Homo sapiens: one gene and its partners. The protein of the gene in region 5 purifies or fractionates together with the protein of the main gene of each other region. This does not show direct contact. Each region holds a gene or a part of one and is shown on either strand. Other genes may lie near its edges. The genes, in order: KIAA1549, SLC47A1, DPY19L4, SLC44A5 and OR2G6.

Region 1 (4,071 bases), on a different chromosome or scaffold from region 5:
TTTTTTCCATCTCCTTTGTTAGCTTCAGGCAATTACTTCTCATTAGTGAAATTCTAATCTTGTGGTCCCCACACTCTGAGCATCATCACTGCCTCTTAGCTCGCATCATCACTGCCTCCACTGCCTCGTAGCTTGTTAGAAAATGCAGAATCTCAGGGCCCACCCCCGACCTTCTGAATCAGAATCTGCATTTGACAAGATCCCCCTGGTGATTTTGCATGCACAATTGAGGTTTGGGAAGCACTGGGCTAAGAGGTAAAGTGCCTTCTGTTCTAGCCTTCTGGGAATAGGTATTGTTGGAACATTGAAGGCTAAGTCAGCCTGGACTAACTCTGGAGCTATGTAAATCTCCAGAGACCTTGAGAGACACCTGCTTTTGGGACTGAGTCTGTGTAAATAGTGTGCAAGAACCATATTTTATTTGACCAGGCAACTAGATTAGAATTGTCCCCTAGACCTGCTGTTTTCATTCATTGCGAGCATTTGACTGGTTGTAAAAACACTGAGATACAGTCTGGATGTGGTGGCTCACGCTTATAATCCCAGCACTTTGGGAGGCTGAGGCAGGTGGGTCACCTGAGGCCAGGAGTTCGAGACCAGCCTGGCCAACATAGTGAAACCTCGTCTCTACTAAAAACACAAAAAAATAGCCAGGCATGGTAGTGGGTGCCTGTAATCCCAGCTACTCAGGAGGCTGAGGCTTGAACCCGGGAGGCAAAGGTTGCGGTGAGCTGAGATCGCGCCACTGCACTGCAGTCTGGGCAACAAAATGAGACTCTGTCTCAAAAAACAAAACCAAACCACTGAGATACTACCATAGCAGTTGGTAAATAGCTGCTGTACTGAATATTCCTTGCTCCCCACCCCCAAGTACCCTGAGCCTCCCTGCCCTCTTTCAGGACTCTTCTCCCAAGGACCACCGCCACCCTCCACCTCACCGAGATCCAGTGACTGAAGGGTTAATGCTCAGCACAGCAGGTGCCTCAAGGACTCTGCTTTAGTTTTTTGGCTGAAGACCATTCTGGCAGGTTTGAGGTGCTATCTCATTGTGGTTTTAATTTGCATTTCCCTAATGATTAGGGATGCTGAGCAATTTTTCTTTACCTGTTGACCATTTGTGTGTCTCTTTTGAGAAATGTCTGTTCAGATCCTTTACCTGTAAAATTAGAATAGCTCCCTTTCCGACTGTCAGTGCTCGTGCTCCACTGCTGTTAACTGTGTTGACTATCACCTGTACATTCATTCATTGATTTTTAATCTATCCCAGATCCAGTACTTAGAAAAAAAGTTAGGCTGGGTGCGGTGGCTCACGCCTGTGTTCCTAGCACTTTGGAAGCCCAAGGCGGGAGGATTGCTTGAGCTCAGGAGTTTAAGACCAGCCTGGGTAACATAGTGAGACCTTGTTTCTACAAAAGTACAAAAATTAGTTGGGCATGGTGGCATGCACCTGTAGTCTCAGCTATTCGGGAGGCTGAGGCAGGAGGATTGCTTGAGCCCAGCAGGTTGAGGCTGCAGTGGGCTGGGATTGTGCCACTGCACTCCAGCCTGGGTGATAGAGCAAGAACTTAAAACAAAAAAAAAGCTTGTTAAATGTTGTACTTGATGGTAGTTGAAGTCATAGATATGGAAGACACTAGTGAGGGGGGAGCATGGAGAGTTAGTAGACAAGGCAGCTGAGGACAGAAACCCTGAAACTAGCGTGAAGGAGAGGGGAAGACAAAGAGGAGCATACAGAGGAACTGACCATCATGACAAAATAGTGATATGAGAGCCAGGAGAGGAGGAGAGAGTTTTCCTCTAGGTGAGTGATCCATCATGTCAAATGCTACTGTACCAAACTGTTTCTTGAAGGATGGGATGAGGGCCAACTGATCAGAATCACCTGTTAAAAACCCAACTCATGGTCAAGCCAGCTCTACTGAAACAGGTGATGCCTGAGGATTTGTATTTTTGAAATGTTCCACAAGCTCTTTATGTTATTCTTAGGCCTGGTGAGGTTTGAGTTATTCCCTATAACTTAATGGTGGCAGGAGGGTTGGTGGAAGTTTTAAAAACATGTTTTAGACTTGATTGTGTTTGTAGGCTTCAAGAGTCAGTAAAAATACAGTGACTGGGCTGGGCGCGGTGGCTCATGCCTGTAATCCCAGCACTTTGGGAGGCCCAGGCAGGCAGTTCACTTGAGGTTAGGAGTTTGAGACCAGCCTGGCCAACATGGTGAAAACCCGCCATTACTAAAAATACAAAAATTAGCCAGGTGTGGTGGCGGGTGCCTGCAATCCTAGCTATTCGGGGGGCTGAGGCATGAGAATCACTTGAATCTGGGAGGCGGATGTTACAGTGAGCTGAGATTGTGCCACTTTACTCCAGCCTGGGTGACAGAGCGACACTCTATCTCAAAAACAAAACAAAACAAAACAAAAGCAGTGGTTGACAATTTAAGGAAGTAGAAGGAAGGACCTCATGGCTAATTTACCAAAAGTGAGGAGGTTCACCTGGGCAGGCAGGACCACCCTAAGAAGAGTTAGGAAGAAGTAATGTTGGGAGAAGGAATCGGAGGGACTGGTGGAAGGTTGGGAGTGAAGTCCAAGGTAATGGGGGTATCTGTGGTGATGTTAGGGAACCCACCGTGTGATTTTTGTCCTCTAGCACTTGACGTTCCAGTGTGTCTGGGAAAGGTGAGCCATTGGCCCGAGTCAGGGATGGGGAATCACAGGGCAGGTGTGAAGAGCCAAAGGGGATTGAAGGAGCTGGCAAGAGGTGGTCTGGATGAGGTAGGAGGTGAACCGTGGCTGGAGCAGTGGGAAAGGGACTGGGAGGAGGGGGTGCAGCTGAGATCCCAGGGCAGGTGTTGAGAGAGAGGTGGGGGAGGGCGGGAGGGATTGGGGTGTCATTGTGCCGAGTTTCAGAAGTGGGTCATCTCTAGTTTTGGTCTTGGGTAATGAACAGGGTAGGGTGTAGTGGTGGGAATGAGTTGTTGAAGTGGAACATGGAGGAAGGCTTTGGGGTGAATAACTTCTGTGGATGTTGAACTTGCCTGGAGAGAGGAAGAAAGGACTGTGAGCCAGGCACCAGCCCCTCAGTGAGTGAAAGAAAGTTCCCAGAGGACTGTGAATGGGAGGGGAGGAAGTCCGTCTTGAATGTTTCTGCTGTACCATCGCTGCCACCACTGCCCTCATTCAAGCTCCCATCCTCTTTTCTCCAGGTGACTGTCACGACCTCTACTTCTCCTCTCACTTCCTCCAGTTCATCCTCCACCTTCAGCAGGAAGGGCCTGCTAGGAACAGGTCACGTCCCTTCCTCCTTGCTTGACTGTCTGCAGTGGCCCCCATGGTTTTCATTACGCTCCACGTCTGAGTCAAAGCCTGTGTGCTCAGATAGCAGGTGTACAGGGCAGGAGTTGGGTGTCTAGGATGTGGGAAAATGGGCATGGAAGGTGCAGAATATTCCACATATTGGTACTGAAAGGGACCGAGAAGATCTTTCCAGCAAGAGAAGGGAAGTGATGTGATTTGGAGGCTGAGTTTTGCCCTCTCGAGGTTGAGGTCCAGCTGTAAGACGGTTTCTCAACCCTAGGGGGTGGGTTTTGTTGTGACAGCCGCTGACTGGGTAGGACCCAGCCCCTCAGAGGGCCAGCTTCTGCGGCATGAAGGGTGCTGTGTGTGTGCAAGGAGTGAAATAACGTAGGAAGAGGGAGTGGTAAGGTGGAGGCCATCTGTGCAGGTGAGGGCTAGGAAGAAGCCAGTCTGGGGTGGGGTTGGAAAGGGAGGCAGAGAGGGCAGGAGTGAAAGCTCCTGGGGGCTTGGAAGGGATGGGATCTAGGGCAAGAGTGGAGGCATTCATTTGAGAGAGGAGGAAAACAGAAGGAGAAACAGGTGGCTTGTCTGGGGACAGAGATGTATGGGGGAGTATGGGTCTATTGGTGGAGGGTGGGAGGCGAGCAGATCTGGAGAGAGGACAGCAGCGTGGGGGGATCAGGAGCTTGAGCAAACACAACTGGCTTCCAGAGGAGAGTGAGAAGGGATGAGTGAAAGAATTGCCAGGCAGTGGCAAGGGCCCAGTTGAAGTTGGAAG
Region 2 (4,071 bases), on a different chromosome or scaffold from region 5:
CTGCCTGAAAAGTAAATCTGATCACTAATTCCCTTGCTACAAACTAACCAGGGCCTCCCCATAAATATGTGGCCTACACAAGTTGTCGGCCAAGACCATTGTCCTGGCCCCATCAGCCTGAGACCACCAGAGACAGGACTGTAGGCCAGTGGGTTTGCAGTTGTGTTTATTGGCCTGTCGCAGTGAGAGAGACTAGAGAGGCTGTGGGATGCCTCAGCAAAGGAAGAAGAGTTATTATAAAGGTTTGAAGAAGGGTGGGGTTCAGGTGACATTTAAGCGAAATCATGGTTTGATAGGCGCTGAGCAGATCTGTGAGTGAGGGGCCCAACATCAGGCCTGGGCTGTGACGTGGACCTGGTGCTCCTCCTTTGGAAACTCAAGGCTAAGAAGGATGTTGAGGGTGGACAGATGTAAAATGCCACATCCAGGAGCTCCCACGAAGCTCTGTGCCTGGGTTGGAAATTGAGGCTACTTTTTTGTGTTAACATGATTTTGAGCCTCCACGCGAGAGTGGGGTGTTTTCTTTTTACTGAAATGATTTCAAACAGCAATGTTTCTGAACAGTCTGATTTTAGACAACAAAGTTTCTCAGTGAGTCAGAAAGCACTCGTCATTCCACTAGGGGAGTAATGACACTTTATGGGGACAGCGTGACCTTGGGAGAAAGGAGGTTTCCTTTTACGTTTGCACTGACTTTATCTGCGTCTGCTATTCTATCCGGATGCGGGGCAGGACAGAGTTTTACTTCCTTGGTCTGATGTAATTTTACTTTCACCCCTGTCTTACTTTGAGACACCAAACAGTCTGGATGTTTCACCAGTCCTGTACTTTTGAAAGTTAGATATGTTGGAATCCCTTCCGTATTCTAGAAAGAAACTCTAGTTTCTTCAAGATCTTAGGTCAATTTTCTGAATTTCTATTTTGGTGAAGAAAGTATTCTCATTTTCTCCTATCGTCCAGTGTCAAAGGTGCCTTGTTGACCCATTTAGCCCCTGCCAGTCCTTGCACTGTTGGAAATAAGCCATTTATCTTCTTCCTTCCCTGCTGCTGAACATATCTTGCCTGTGTCTCTCTGTGGCCAGAACTCCGCACTTTATACCTCAAAGAGAGAAGGAAGAGAAAGGGGTGGGAGAGTGGAAAGGCAGGAGCAACAAGGACATGACCTCCCCAGTTAAGCCCCCCAGCTATGCCTGTGATACCCGCTGAGCAGGCCAGCTGGAGCCTGTGTGTGCTTGGGTAGCAGAAAGGCAGTCCTATTCTGTGGATCTCAAGGATGGCATGCGGTGTCCTTTTTCCAGGGAATTGTACTGCCCCAGATCGTAACTGGAGTTGCAGCCAACCTTGTCAATGCCCTCGCCAACTATCTGTTTCTCCATCAACTGCATCTTGGGGTGATGTGAGTCCAACATACTCTTGGGACAGGGAGAAGGGATGACTTGCATGTGGTTTTTCCAGGAGGGAGAAGAGTGGGCTCTTCAGCTGGTTCTTGTGTCCATGCGTGGTCTCTTTCTTGCACACTGTGGAAAGCACTGTCAGGGATGGAGGGTGAGGCTGCTCTGGGAAGAAGACCTTGGCCTGCTGAGGACAGCACGGGAAGGGATGAGTCTCCCCTCCTCACTGAGTTGGGCAGGGAGAGGCGCAGGAAGGTACCTCCCTCTCATTGGGACTGTTCTTTCCAGAGGCTCTGCACTGGCAAACTTGATTTCCCAGTACACCCTGGCTCTACTCCTCTTTCTCTACATCCTCGGGAAAAAACTGCATCAAGCTACATGGGGAGGTAATGACTGCCCTTTTGTCTTCCAACTGGGATGTGGGTTTTGTCTCAGGTTGAGTTCCAGCCCGATGGCCAGATCTCCTGGAAATGTGTGTGTCCCCCCCACAGGCTGGTCCCTCGAGTGCCTGCAGGACTGGGCCTCCTTCCTCCGCCTGGCCATCCCCAGCATGCTCATGCTGTGCATGGAGTGGTGGGCCTATGAGGTCGGGAGCTTCCTCAGTGGTCTGTATGAGGATGGATGACGGGGACTGGTGGGAACCTGGGGGCCCTGTCTGGGTGCAAGGCGACAGCTGTCTTTCTTCACCAGGCATCCTCGGCATGGTGGAGCTGGGCGCTCAGTCCATCGTGTATGAACTGGCCATCATTGTGTACATGGTAAGCAGGGGAGCCGATCATGGGGAGGTGCCAGGCGTTTTCCTTGCTTGGTATCTGAAAGAGTCTATGGATGAGCACAGGCATTCGTACATGAATCATTTGTGAAATGATGGACAAAAGTCAAATCCCATCCTTGAGCCTGGGAGGGTACCTCTGCTACAGCTGGATCTTCCCTAGGAACTGAAGGGGGGCTGGAGAGAAACTGCACATGATCTGCTGGTTCTCCATCTCCTAACGCAGCTCCCAGCTGAATCTTCCCTTGAAAGATTTGATTTTGTTTCCATACTTTTAGAATCTTTTTCAGTTGTCACAACACAAATGCCTTGAGGGGCCAGGTGGGTGGCATAGCAGAGGGATGAGGCTGGGTGTATGACCATAAACATCAAGCTGCCTGTGTCACTATGCCCGCTCCTGCCTGGTTCTGAAGCCTCTGAAAACACAGTGTGGCTACTGCAAGGTAGATCCCCAAAACAACTGAAAGCAGGGTCTTAAAGGGATTTTTTTTTTTTTTTTGAGATGGAGTCCCACTCTTGTTGCCCTGGCTGGAGTGCAATGGTGTGATCTCGGCTCACTGCAACCTCCGCCTCCCGGGTTCAAGCATTTCTTCTGCCTCAGCCTCCCAAGTAGCTGAGATTACAGGTGCCTGCCACCACGCCCAGCTAATTTTGTATTTTCAGTAGAGACAGGGTTTCACCATGTTGGTCAGCTGGTCTTGAACTCCTGACCTCAGGCGATCTACCCGCCTTGGCCTCTCAAAGTGTTGGGATTACAGGCGTGAGCCACCGCGCCTGACTTGTTAACTGTGTTCACAGGAGCATTATTGACAGTAGACAAAAGGTGGAAGCAACCTATGTGTCTGCGGGTAAATGAAATGGGTTCTATGCATACAGTGGAGTATTATTCAGCCTTAAAAGGGAGGAAATTTTGATCATAGAGAACACTAGTCATTAGGAGGCTTTTCTTTGGCTTTATTTTCCTGAAAACATCAACTGGAGATTCTGAAGGAAGCAAGTACCATTTTAGAAATGTAAAATTAAAAACAAAGGGAGTTTATAATGTGGGGAGAAACTCAAGCCAGCAGATATGCTTGGCATTTTTTGCAGTATTAACACTTAGATTTTTTCCCTCTGATATTGGTTATGTTTTAAAACATAGAGTACACATTTTCTGTTTTGTTTAAGAATTATTCTCTTGCAGACCTATGTTTTTTGTTTTTGTTTTTCTATCCTTGGCAGAGTTTTTTAACATGGATTTTTTACTTCACTTTTAATATTTTATTTACATTTTATATTTGAGTAAATTCATTAACTATATCTAAGTCAAAATGCTTAATGGTATATAGGATTCCACTATATGTGATATACTTTTAAAATCAATTTCCTATGGTTGAATAGTTTATTTCCAATGTTTCAATATTAACAACTCTTCAAGGAACATCCTAGGAAAAAATATCTTCATATACTTGTCTGATTATTTCTTTAAGATTCATAAAAGTGGGCCCAGGGTATGTTCACGGGGCGATGCTGCCCTCCCAGCTGGCCCATGGGTGACCCTGGGAACATTAACTGCCTCACAACGTTTGTGCCTCAGTTACCCGTAGATGTAGTGAGGGTAACAATACTTACTCTCGTTGGTGATAAGGAACAGCTAACACAACACACAGGGTTTTTCTGCTCCCAAAATGGGATTCTTCAGTGCACCAAATCGAAGAAAGCACTGGAGCTCACGCTGGTTTCTCCATTGTTTCTCCTTAACAGTGGAAACTGTAACTTTTGTTCTAGTAGCATCTAGCATGCTCAATAATTATTTGTAAATAAAAGTTATACTTTCCCTCCAAAAAAAAAAAAAAAAAGATTCATAAAAGTGAAACAAAGGTACGATTTTATGTCTTTTGAATATATTTCCATATGCTTTCCAATAGG
Region 3 (4,071 bases), on a different chromosome or scaffold from region 5:
AGATTTTTTCTGTCTTTTCCTAAATAATCATAGCTCTTTGTCTTATCCAAGATCAGTTTGGAGGTAAGAAATTACTTTTTGTGATTTCTACTTATCTTTTCCTCATGACCCCTTAATCTTGTAATATAAACTTACTCTGTTTTATGGTACATGTATTTTGAATTTCTCTGTTGGTACTTAGTGGCTGTGATCTTTGGTTTACTGGTGACACAAATGGAATTTTATGAAGCCTCGGGTACAGTTTCAGTAATTGGTGCTGTCTTGCTATCTGCTCTCTGAAGCCTTTCTATTCTGCTCTGATACCCACTTTTCTGCTGTTTTGAAGATCAGCTTACTTCTCCTTTCATGTCATGCCTGGCATGGACTTAAGCTAATCCATCCTTTTAAAGTTGGCTATCTGACATCTTTCATAGCCATTAAAATATTACTTAATTTTTTTTATAAAAACTTCTTCAAGCTAACTAAGCTATCTTAGTGAACATCATTCGGTGAAATTGTAAAGGTCTGCACTAAGTCACGAAAGTTTCCTTGCTTACTAAATAATTCTACACGAGAAGAGTGAATATATTTAGGAATATAATATGTTCATTTCTCAGCCTTGGTAGGGTGCATGATAAGGTCTTCGGAGCGATGATAATGGATTATGGAAACACTGCCTTCTAAATTTTAGGATTAAATCTTTTAAAAATTGGAAACCTTTGTGCTGGTTTCTCAGTGTCAATGAGAAGTTCAGGAGTATAGTGGGCATGGTGACTCACTTATGAAGAAGGCTTCTATTTGCTAACAGTGAGATGTTTTATAGACAATGTTTAGCAATAATGTGTTTTTTCATATAAATATACTCATTTGTATATTGATTGCATTTCTGCTATAAGCTTAATAAGCTTTTTAATATTATGTTTTATATCTTTTAATAGATGGTTTGTGAAGAAGGTGACAAGCTAACCTACTCAAAATATGGGCGATTTTGTCATGAGGTCAAAATTAACTATTCTCCATATGTGAATTATTTCACTAGAGTATACTGGAACAGATCCTACTTTGTATATAAAATCAACACTGTGATATCCTTCCAGTCTTGAAAAATAACAGAGCCTTCATTTCAAAGACTACCTGAAGTAAAATGCAGTTTTCTTCTACCTACTCGGTGTCTTTTGCAGATCAGAGTATGGACATTTGAAATATTGCTGCTTCTTTCCCCCTTCTGCTGTTAACTGGATCCAGAGTTCTGTGGGAAATAGAAGATCAAGCATTACTGTCCTTTGATTAAATGTGATATCTACCACTCTGCAATATTCCAGACAGGTGTCTTCCTTACCGTTACATGGTCTTTAACACTTTTACTGATTGCAATATTTTCCCCATAAAATCTTCATTCTATTATAATATTGATCTTGAATTTGAATATGTGCAAGGTCAGATACATTTCTCAAACATAACATTTAATAAATAATGTGATATAATTATTTAATAGAAAGAATAATTCCGACCTTCAAGCAAGTTTCTGAAGGTATTTTATGATGTATAACAACTGAAGTTTTACAATAAAAACTAATTTAAATGTTAGCTGAAGATATGTGGCATTTAAATTAAAATGGAAATTATATAAAGGAAAGTGATTTTTAAGGATATACATAAAGATATATTTAGAATTTTCATGATACTGTTCTCCTCATCTACTGCTTATGTTAAGTGAGAACTTTCTTAGTAATACATAATGCATGATGTTACTGCATTTTCTAAATGACTAGTAAGTGATTAGTTTTTTCACTTATGCCTATTAATTTGATACCAATTTAATCATGATAAAACAATAACCGTTAACATATATTTTGTTAAATGGACATTTAAAAGAATGTTGTTCAGGTTTTTTTTTTAAATACTGATATGGGGCATACAATCTATTCACATGTTTTCTACTGAAGTACTAAGTAAAAAAATTAAATCATTATCAGAATAAAAATATGTGTTCTAAAATTAGCAACAATTTCTGGGGATACATGCAGATGTTGTTAAACGTACCTCTGCATACAGATATATTATAAAACACAAGCAATGTTATTTATGAAACTGTGATGCAGTCTTCAACATCAAGAAAAAATGACAACTATAATAAAATTTACAACACAGTTTCACAGTCTAAATGCTATGTTCCTTTAAGTATTTTCATATTTTTAATCATTTATTAAGAGAAAATTGTGAAAAGTTAATTTGGCCTTATAGAGAGATTCAGGATAGATGTAGCCTATAGATGTGTCATTTTAATAAGTTGGGATACATGTTTAGTTTTTCCTTATATTCCTGTTCAGTGAACAGATTTTCATAATTCTCACTTGTTAAAGTGCTGCAAAAATTGCATTTTCAGTACTCTAAATTACTACATTAGAAGAGAGCATTTCTCCATTGTCTTTATTTTCTGTTATATATGTGTTGTAAAAGTACACTACATTAGAAGGGAGCTTTTCCGTTGTCTTTATTTTCTGTTATACATGTGTTGTTAAAGTACATGCATTCTTAGACTAACTCTCAGATGCTTTGCTCTTTTGGAGCTGAAGAATTGTTTGATGGTGATGTCATATATCTGATAGATTAGTTTCAGTGGTTCTCATTTCACTTTTATACGTAATTTCTTAACTATATTAAGATAGTTGCAGGCAGTGTACCTCAGGTTGACTCTGTACATCTGAATAGTGAGTCACTAGTATTTTGCTTCAAGCCTTCTGAAAATATAACCATAGTTACCTAAGCACACAGTGAATAGTCACATGGTAGTACTTGTGATTAGAGCATGTAAAACAATGTAATTGAAAAGTCAGCTTCCATATTTTGTAGGGGAAATAGAACACCCTACTTTTTATCTAGTGTGAAATATTTAATCGAATTTTTGTTGATTTATATTATGTTACCTGTGCTGAATTAGGTTTGGTACTTGTGTTTTGTTTGACATATTAGTAAGTTGCTTTTGCTTCTTTCTGTCAACTTATTTTTTAAATAAAATTGATCTGGAAAAATTGTTAATGGGATGTTTTAAATAATGAATTTTTCATCCAGCATCAGTTGAAAAGGAAAAGAAAGCTTCATTATGGAAATGACAATATTGAATATGACAGATAAGTTTATTTGCTTCTGTTTTAACTGCAGTTAATAGTACTAGACAACTTTAAGTGGAAAGCATTTAGTTTATTTCTTCACTTATTTGTAGAGTGAACAAATGATTCACAATTCTACAAGTAATTCCACTTAGGTAACTTACAGTTGTTAGGTTTGACAATAAAGATCTACTATGAGAGGAGAAGAATTTATGGGTTTTGGGTGGAAGGAATTTCTCAAAGAAATAAAAAATGTTCTTTGCCCTTGATACTGCAAACCCACTGATACAAGTGCCTTGAATTTATTATTATTATTATTTTTTATTTTTTTGAGATGGAGTTTCACTCTTGTCTCCCAGGCTGGAGTGCAATGGCGCGATCTTGGCTCACTGCAACCTCCGCTCGCTGCAACCTCCGCCTCCCAGGTTCAAGTGATTCTCCTGCCTCAGCCTCCGGAGTAGCTGGGATTACAGGCACCTGCCACCAAGCACGGCTAATTTTTGTATTTTTAGTAGAAACGGGGTTTCGCCATGTTGGCCAGGCTGGTCTCGAACTCCTGACCTCAGATGATCCACTCACCCCAGCCTCCCAAAGTGCTGGGATTACAGACGTGAGCCACTGCGCCCGGCGCAAGTCTTTGTTAAAAGTAGAGATGGAGGCCAGGCGCAGTGGCTCACTCCTGTAATCCCAGCACTTTGGGAGGCTGAGGCAGGCAGATCACGAGGTCAGGAGATCGAGACCATCTTGGCTAACACGGTGAAACCCCGTCTCTACTGAAAATACAAAAAATTAGCCGGGCAGGGTGGCGGGCGCCTGTAGTCCCAGCTACTCCGAGGCTGAAGCAGGAGAATGGCGTCAAGCGGCGAGGCGGAGCTTGCGGTGAGCCGAGATCATGCCGCTGCACTCCAGCCTGGGCAACAGAGCAAGACTCCATCTCAAAAAGAAAAAAAAAGTAGAGATGGGATCTCTAGCCTCCTAAGTT
Region 4 (4,071 bases), about 170 Mb from region 5:
TGGCATGTCCAGGGGTCTTGGAATGTAACCCCCATGGATAAGGAGAGATTACTGCTGTATATAACATATCTATCTTGTTATTACTCTTAAGGTACTGGTAAGAAGTCTGGCCTGGATCACATTAATAAGCATCTACAACTATTATTTTTTTCCCACTCTGAGATGATGAATCTCAGTACCTTGTAATAATAAAAAGATTCCATGTTTCTAAAAATGAAGTGTTTACAAATGGTTTGCATTGTAAAAATCACCAGTTTTCTGGCAGCCAAGACAATAGGAATAAATAAATAAATAAATCTACACATTCAGAATTTGGCTCAGGGCATCATTTAAGAAGAATATTTTACAAAGTGTGATGTTGCCCATAGTAACAGCTAGGGGAGGAAGAGAAACACAATTTAAGTTTCCTTGTTCTTTGTTATCACAGACAAGTGTCTCTGAAAGGAAATGATTCATGTCAACATGCAATACACTGAATCAAGCTGATGTACCTGGCTTTCAAGGAGTTGGCAATTAATAAAGATGGTGGAAAACATTTCTTACTGTCAAAATTCAAAATCAACTGCCAAACTTAAAATCCACATATTAGCCAAAACTTCCAAAGACTGGAAGCTAGTAGGTTCTAGACATTTCCTGAGACAAATTTTCATAAGTATTTTCAGCTACAAGAATGGGGAAGGTCACATAGTGATTTCCAGTTATTGCTCCCATGGTTAATGTTGGAGATGAGAGGAGAGATCTTTGAGCATTCTAGAGCCCTGCGTCCACCATGTTTTAGTGCTTGACCTTACTCGTGCTCCTTCTTCCATCCCATACCTGAACTGTTTGTTCATGTGATATTTTGTAGATAGATGGCTTTCCTTAGACCACTGAAGCACTAGGAAAACATTAAACATTTCATTTCCATTTACAACCAGAGGAAGAGCTAACTAGTACATAAAGTTCTCTTGAATTCTTTGTCCGGTTATTGAGAATTGATTTTAACAGGCTCAGAAACAAACAAACAAAAAACAAGGCCAGACTTTTTTCCAGGAGGTTTTCTTTGAATATATCTCCCTATAGTTATCGTCTCTCTTGATCCCAGTGTGAAGTTGGTGCTGTGGGTTATTCTAAAATGCAAACTGTAAATTTTATACAAGTGGATTGTTCAGTAATGGCCTGTCAGAGAGTAAATGTTCTCTGTTTCTCTTAAGGGCAATGTGCTAGAGAAATAATCTCTCAGGATGTGTAGTTGTGCAGCTAACAAGTTCTGCTCTTTTACTTACTGACTCTACTTTCTGTTGGTTTGCCAAAGAAATGGCATGGAAGGTGAAAGCCAGATTAAGCTTCTGCTAGGTACTAGGTTCTCCAGGACTTTTCAAGTGAGGTACTAATATTAAAAAAATCTTTTTTTTTTTCTCAGAGCCAGGATCTTGCTCTGTTACTCAGGCTGGAATACAGTGGCACTATCATAGCTCACTGCAGCCTTGAACTCCTGGGCCCAGGTGATCCTCCCACCTCAGCCTCCTGGGTAGCTAGGACTACAGGTGTGTGCTACCGTGCCTGGCTAATTTATTTATTTATTTATTTATTTATTTTCTAGAGATAGGGTCTCACTATGTTGCCCAGGCTGGTCTCAAGCTGGGCTTCAAGCAGTTCTCCCCATCTTGGCCTCTGAAAGCACTAAGATTACAGGTATGAGCCACAGTGCCTAGCCAAAAAAAGAAAACCCTATTTTGTGTATGGGAGTTGCATATGCAACTATAGGAGCATCATGTATAAGTCAGTGATGAAAGCTCTAAAGAAGTATTTTAACTCTATGTATCAAAATTAATCCAACTATTTCCTAGAGGCACTCCTCTCCGAATCCTATCCATTTGTCATTGTGATGCACAGTGCGAATTGGCCCTATATGTCCTTGAAACCACCTTGTCATCTTGGCTTTATCAGAATTTATAAATCCTCTCCTCAAAGAATTCCACATATCTAGTTCCCAGAGTCCTGTTACGTCTTCAGTTCTGTTAACAAAGCATGGCAGAAGCCAATCATTATTATTCACTTAAAAAATCAAGAAATGAACAAAATAATTTCATGCTAACAGTATGCCATGAAGCCTGTGCTTCATTTCAGTAGTTGACTCTTCTGTGCTTTGCAAACTCCATTCTCTTAGCTGTTAAGATTTCTTTTTAAATTTTGTATTTTTCTCTAAGCCTTGTTGAGGTATAATTTTTTTATCCAACTTTATTGAGATATAATTAATAAATAACAACTGTAAATATTTAAGGTGTGTAATGTTTTGATATATGCATATATAGTAAAATGATTGCCACAGTCAAGCTAATGAACATGTCCATAACCTCCCATAGTTATCTTTGTGTGTGTGTGGTGAGAATACTAACGAGCTTAGCAAATTTCAAGTTAACAATACAGTATTATTAACTATAGTCACCATGCTGTACATGTGAGTGCCATAATTTATTCATCCTGCATAACTGAAAGTTTGTACCCTTTGACCAACATCTCTCTATTTTACTGACCCCTCAATCTCTGGTCATCACCCCTCTACTCTGTTTCTATGAGTTTGACATTTTTAGATTCCACATGTAAGTGAGATCATGAAGTATTTGTCTTTCTGCATCTGACTTATTTCTCAGGTATTATGGTTTAAATAACATCTACTAAGCAATATCTCTTTCCAGATAAACACGTTTTGTGGTTGCAGCCAGGTAACAGCAGATCCCCAAGCCAGCTAAGGACATGGGCCTTCACCATCTCACCTTTCAGTTATCCACCGAAGGGGGAAAACACACATACTGAATACTCACAGAAGCAGATGAAAATTGTTTCAACACACATTGCATAGACGCTGAAGAACCCATGTGCAATCAGGTAAGACCCAAAAATGACTGTCTGTAAATGGATGAAGAAGAGAACCAACATGTCATTTACTTTGACCAGAAGAAGAATAATGCAGCTATAAATGAAAGCCATGATGAGAAAGTTTTGAAGTACTCTGTATGGGAAAAGAGTTCAGTATAGAGACCAAAAAGTTCAATGATAATGCTTCTGCATACTTTGTACTGAGACTTAAACAAGTTTTATTAAATTAACTGCCTTTTTTTTCCCTTTTTTGGGGGGTACTATTTTCTTTCTTCCTTCCCTTCCTTTCCCCTTTCTTTTCTTTTCTTTTCTTTTTTTTCTTTTCTTTTCCCTCCCTCCCTCCTTCCCTTCCTCCCTTCCTTCCTTCCTTTCTCTCTCTCTCTTTCTCTTTCTTCCTTTCTTCTTTCTTTCTTTTTCTTAATAAAACAGAAGTTTATTTCTCCCTCGGATAACAGTTTATAAGAGGTGTTCCAGATAACAGAACAACCCTTCTCAACACAGTGATCCAGGGACTCTTGCCACATGCCCAGCTCTTTAGAAGAAAGAGAGAACAAATTTTTGTATCAAGCAAAGAGATTTTGCCAATGATATTTTGTGTCTCTTCAATCAGTTGATGCCAGTGTTTTTATTTCTGAAATATTCTTTTGAATTCTTTTTAAACTTTTATTTTTTTAACTTTTATTTTTGGTTAAGGGGTATGTGTACAGGTTTGTCATATAAGTAAATTATGTGTCATAGGGGTTTTGTGTACAGATTATTTCATCACCCAAGTAACAAGCCTAGTATCCAATAGGTAGTTTTTCGATCTTCTCCCTCCTTCTACCCTCCACCCTCAAGTAGGTCCCAGTGTCTGCTGTTTCCCCCTTTGTGTCTATGTGTACTCAATATTTACCTACAACTTATAAGTGAGAACATGCAGCATTTGGTTTTCTCTTCCTGTTTCAGTTTGCTTAGGATAACAGCCTCCAGCTCCATCCATGTTGCTGCAAAGGACATGATCTCATTCTTTCTCACGACTGTATAGTATTCCATGGTGTATTTGTACCACATTTTCTTTATCCAGTCTATAATTGATGACCTGCTCATTTTCTTCCTGCCACCCCCAGTACTTAGCAAAAATATGTCAGTTTTAGTATCTTGTACCCAAGGCAATAAAGCGTTAGGCATTAAGAGCACATACTGCCTGGGTTTGAATCACAGCTCAGGCACTCA
Region 5 (4,071 bases):
CTAATTGTATTTATAAAATACATTATAAGTACATAATTATAAGCATTCACAAACAAAAGTATGCTCAATGTAGGTATTTAAAAAAGAGAAACTACTCATGTTATTCAATTATAGGGAAGATTTTTAATAAATGGTGGATATTTTTTAGATTAATCAGAAAAATGCTCACATTATAAATAAAAATAGTATGAAATTATACATGTATGATGATTATAAAAGCAGTATAAACATATCCATATCATAGGAAAGCTCTAAATTCAAGAAAGTAGTAACAGGATTTTATTTTCAAATGTGTTCCCATTTTCATCTGCAGTTAAGTAGTTTTTTTAGGTTGCTTTGCCTATGTTATATCTATTATTTTCTGGTTTCCTTTTGGGTGCAAATAACTTACAGCTAAAGATGCTAATTTCAGCAATAAGCAGATATTCTATTTTTTTCTGAATTATGTTTGAATTTATTGTATACAGTAATAATTTGATTTTATTTTCAGTGGGATTTGTATTCCATATTACCTTAAATGGATGTGAGTTTGTCTTTGAAAATGGTTGCTTCACAATTCATATGTAGGTTTTTCTACATATTGTGTTCATATCATTGCTTTACACATGGTTGTCTTTTCACCTGGAGCTATTTCTTTCCTTTAAATGCCACATCTTTTGCCCTGGGGCCATATTCCATGTAAATTGATTGAGACTCTGACACAGGTACATTCTTTCCTATGCTGTGTTGCTCGGGTTATCAGGAATAATGCATTTGTACATGTGACGCTTCCTGTAGAACTACTTCTCTACTTGCATATTGTAAATAAAAACATGTGCTCCTCAGCATGTTCTGCTCAGTTCCCAACTCTCCTCTCCATTACTGGAGGAGGAAAATCACATAAGAATATCCTAGAAGACAAATTTAACCAGGCTTCTTTTCCCTCGTTTTTGTTAAATTGGATATTCATCATTTTGTTTGCTAAAAGTATATTGAAGAGGTGCCAGCTGGACAGGGTATTTGTGAAGAGGCAGCCTGAGTCATTAGTGAATTCTCCTGATGCCTTTTTGTTCTTGTGTGCGCAGCCATTTTGCCTTCAGTCCAGGCTTTGGTAGGAGAGGCAGGTCCAAACGTTATCCTTAACATTCGTAGACAGGCTACAATATTCTCACACCAGGATGAATTATTATAAATCTGAATGTTGGAAGGCTGAGGCAGAGGGATCACTTAAACCCAGGAGGTCAAGGCTGCAGTGAGCCATGATTGAGCCACTGCACTCCAGCCTGGGCAACAGAGCAAGACCCTGTCCAAAAAAGAAAAGTCTAAATCACTTGAAAATTCCACTTCCACCCCAGATTCTGCCTGCATTTTACTCTTCATTTGCATTGATGTTTTCATGCTTTTTTCATGTGTATCATAATGAGAATATGAAGTAAAATTACAACCACAGATTAAATCACTTTTTTCTATAATTGCACAGTTCTCTTAAAATACTTGAGGTTGACGAATTGATGAAGTTCAATCGTTTTGGGAAAAGAAAGCAAGAAAGAGGCTGAGACACACAAAGATACACAGAGAGATAGAGACAGAATTAAATCAGAAAGTAAAAGTTTGGTCAAATATAAGAATACATTTATTAAAATGCTTCTAAATATTTCATTTTTTTTGCTGTTTTGGAAACCAAACATATAACTATGATCGTTAACGTGAGACAGTGTGTGGGATTCATATTTCAAATTTTTGAAGTATAAAATTACATAAGTAACTGTTTTCCAGAGTTTAAGGCCAAAAACAATAACTTATTTTATGAATTTTGTATAAATGTTAAAACACATTTTAGTATATGGCAATTTTACTCAACTTTTAATCAATCTCCTTAATTCAAGTTTGCTTATTTGATTCCTTTAATAAAATATTAGTCATTATTTGCATCCCACAATTCTGTGGAACCAAAGCATCACAACTCTTAATATTTGTGTTTCTCGTGTTGTAAATAAGCCAATAGAGTGGGATGGTTCCATTCTCCAGTTAAAAGTGACATATTCTGGGAAAATGGTCATGTATTTTTTCAGTCTGTTATATACATTGCTTTGCCTAGTTAGAGATATATGTATACATATATCTCAAATGTGAAATGTAGAAATGGTAGTGTGGATCAAGTGCTATGGAAACATATTATGAAACAGTTAATTCTGCACAAGGATGAGAAGGATGGTGTTTCAGGACAGCTAGTGAGTGCAGGTGACATTTCAGCTGAGTTTTGAAGCATTAGTAGAAGTCTATCAGATGGGCTGGCACATTAGAAGGAAATAATGGATACATGAACCTTGATGGCAGGTGGATGAAGGACAAACATTTTTTTCCAGATAGAACACAGGGTCTTGGATTGACAAGAGGAATGTCTGGGAGGATGAACCCTCATGCTGCTTTGGTGTGTTTCTCTTCTTTAGAATTCCAATGCTTCCTAGTCCCTGTGGCTTTGGGATTGACAAGAGGAATGTCTGGGGAGGATGAATCCTCACGCTGCCTTGAGGTGTTTCCCTTCTTTAGAATTCCAATGCTTCCTAGTCCCTGTGGCTTTGGGATTGACAAGAGGAATGTCTGGGGAGGATGAACCCTCACTCTGCCTTGAGGTGTTTCCCTTGTTTAGAATTCCAGGTGTTTCCTAGTCCTTGTGGCTTTGTCCAGCAGCACTACCCAGTATCAGGGTCCTCAAGGCCCCTTTCACATCTTTGTTTCTCAGAGTGTAGATAATGGGGTTTAAAAGTGGGGTGACTATGGTATAGAAAAGAGAAACAAACTTTCCCTGGTTTTTGGATCTCCTATTGGCCGGTTGAAGGTACATGAATATGATGGTCCCATAGAAAATGATGACCACAACCAGGTGAGACGAACAGGTCCCAAAGGCCTTTTGGCGGCCCGCAGCTGATTTTATCCTTAACACAGCTTGAGTGATAAAGCCATAGGAGACTAAGATGAGTAACACCGGGACAATTAGAAAGACTACACTGGCCACAAAGAGTTCTGCCTCGTTGAAAGTCGTATCCACACAGGCCAGTTTGATGAGCACTGGCACCTCACAGAAAATATGATCCAGTGTGCGATGACCACAGAGGGGCAGCTGCACAGTGAGGGAGCACTGAATTAGGGAGGTGATGAGGCCGCTGAGCCATGCTCCACCGGCCAGAGACGCACAGAACCTGGGGTGCATAATGGCTATGTAGCGCAGTGGCCGGCAGACAGCAGCATAGCGGTCATAAGCCATGACGGCCAAGAGAATACACTCAGACGAGCCCAACCCCATGGCCACATAGAGCTGGGCCACACAGCCACCGTAGCTCATGGTTTTGTCTTTCTTATTCATGGTAACCAGCAACTGTGGGGCAACACTGGTGGTAAAGCAGATGTCCACACACGAGAGGTTGCTGAGGAAGAAGTACATTGGAGTGTGGAGTCTGGAGTCCAGACAACATACTAGTATGAGGGCAGTGTTCCCCAGAAGGCTCAAGACGTAGAAGTACAAAATGATGGCAAAAAGAAACCTCTCTAGCTGAGGCTGATCTGAAAATCCCAGGAGAAGAAATCCCTTTTCAGAGCTGTTGTTGGTTTCCTCCATTTTTCCTGCAGCTTCAGGACTCTTCAGCTTCAAATACTAAGTGATTAATATTTGGGGATAGAAAGTAATGAGGTCAAGAATGGTAATCCACAGTCGTTTACAGTATAATTATCTTCCTTATATATCACCTAAAACATGTTGTGAAGACCTATAGAACTTTCCTCAACATAAATCCATGGGCGGGAAATGCCACTTCCTTCTATTTTTATTGAATAAAGTTTTACTCAAACAACAAAAGTATTGTATTAACATTTGTTTTATTTGATATTTGTATTTATTCACTCTTTGCTTATTCTTGTACTTTGCCCATTTTTACACCGATATATTTATATGTTCAAATGATGTATTTATGCAGGTAAAGCAACTGACCCAATGTCCTTTTGATGCAAATATTTTGTTATATGTATACAAATATATATATTTTTTGAGATGGAGTCGTTCTGTCGCCTGGACTAGAGTACAGTGCCGTGATCTCT

Evidence for each region.
Region 1: the proteins of OR2G6 (region 5) and KIAA1549 purify together in Homo sapiens (affinity purification with mass spectrometry; one large-scale study listed by BioGRID and IntAct). This does not show direct contact.
Region 2: the proteins of OR2G6 (region 5) and SLC47A1 purify together in Homo sapiens (affinity purification with mass spectrometry; one large-scale study listed by BioGRID and IntAct). This does not show direct contact.
Region 3: the proteins of OR2G6 (region 5) and DPY19L4 purify together in Homo sapiens (affinity purification with mass spectrometry; one large-scale study listed by BioGRID and IntAct). This does not show direct contact.
Region 4: the proteins of OR2G6 (region 5) and SLC44A5 purify together in Homo sapiens (affinity purification with mass spectrometry; one large-scale study listed by BioGRID and IntAct). This does not show direct contact.

The regions. Positions count from the first base shown.
Region 1 is NC_000007.14:138,971,164-138,975,234, reverse strand, and holds part of KIAA1549 (UPF0606 protein KIAA1549), read left to right. Parts: intron 1-4,071. UniProt on the Homo sapiens protein: May play a role in photoreceptor function.
Region 2 is NC_000017.11:19,553,914-19,557,984, forward strand, and holds part of SLC47A1 (multidrug and toxin extrusion protein 1), read left to right. Parts: intron 1-1,298; coding exon 1,299-1,396; intron 1,397-1,679; coding exon 1,680-1,777; intron 1,778-1,882; coding exon 1,883-1,996; intron 1,997-2,081; coding exon 2,082-2,149; intron 2,150-3,646; exon of another isoform or gene 3,647-3,798; intron 3,799-4,071.
Region 3 is NC_000008.11:94,788,829-94,792,899, forward strand, and holds part of DPY19L4 (probable C-mannosyltransferase DPY19L4), read left to right. Parts: intron 1-917; coding exon 918-1,082; 3' UTR 1,083-4,071. UniProt on the Homo sapiens protein: Probable C-mannosyltransferase that mediates C-mannosylation of tryptophan residues on target proteins.
Region 4 is NC_000001.11:75,208,664-75,212,734, forward strand, and holds part of SLC44A5 (choline transporter-like protein 5), read right to left. Parts: exon of another isoform or gene 3,271-4,071; intron 2,890-3,270; coding exon 2,805-2,889; intron 1-2,804.
Region 5 is NC_000001.11:248,521,171-248,525,241, reverse strand, and holds part of OR2G6 (olfactory receptor 2G6), read right to left. Parts: intron 3,632-4,071; 5' UTR 3,596-3,631; coding exon 2,645-3,595; 3' UTR 1-2,644. UniProt on the Homo sapiens protein: Odorant receptor.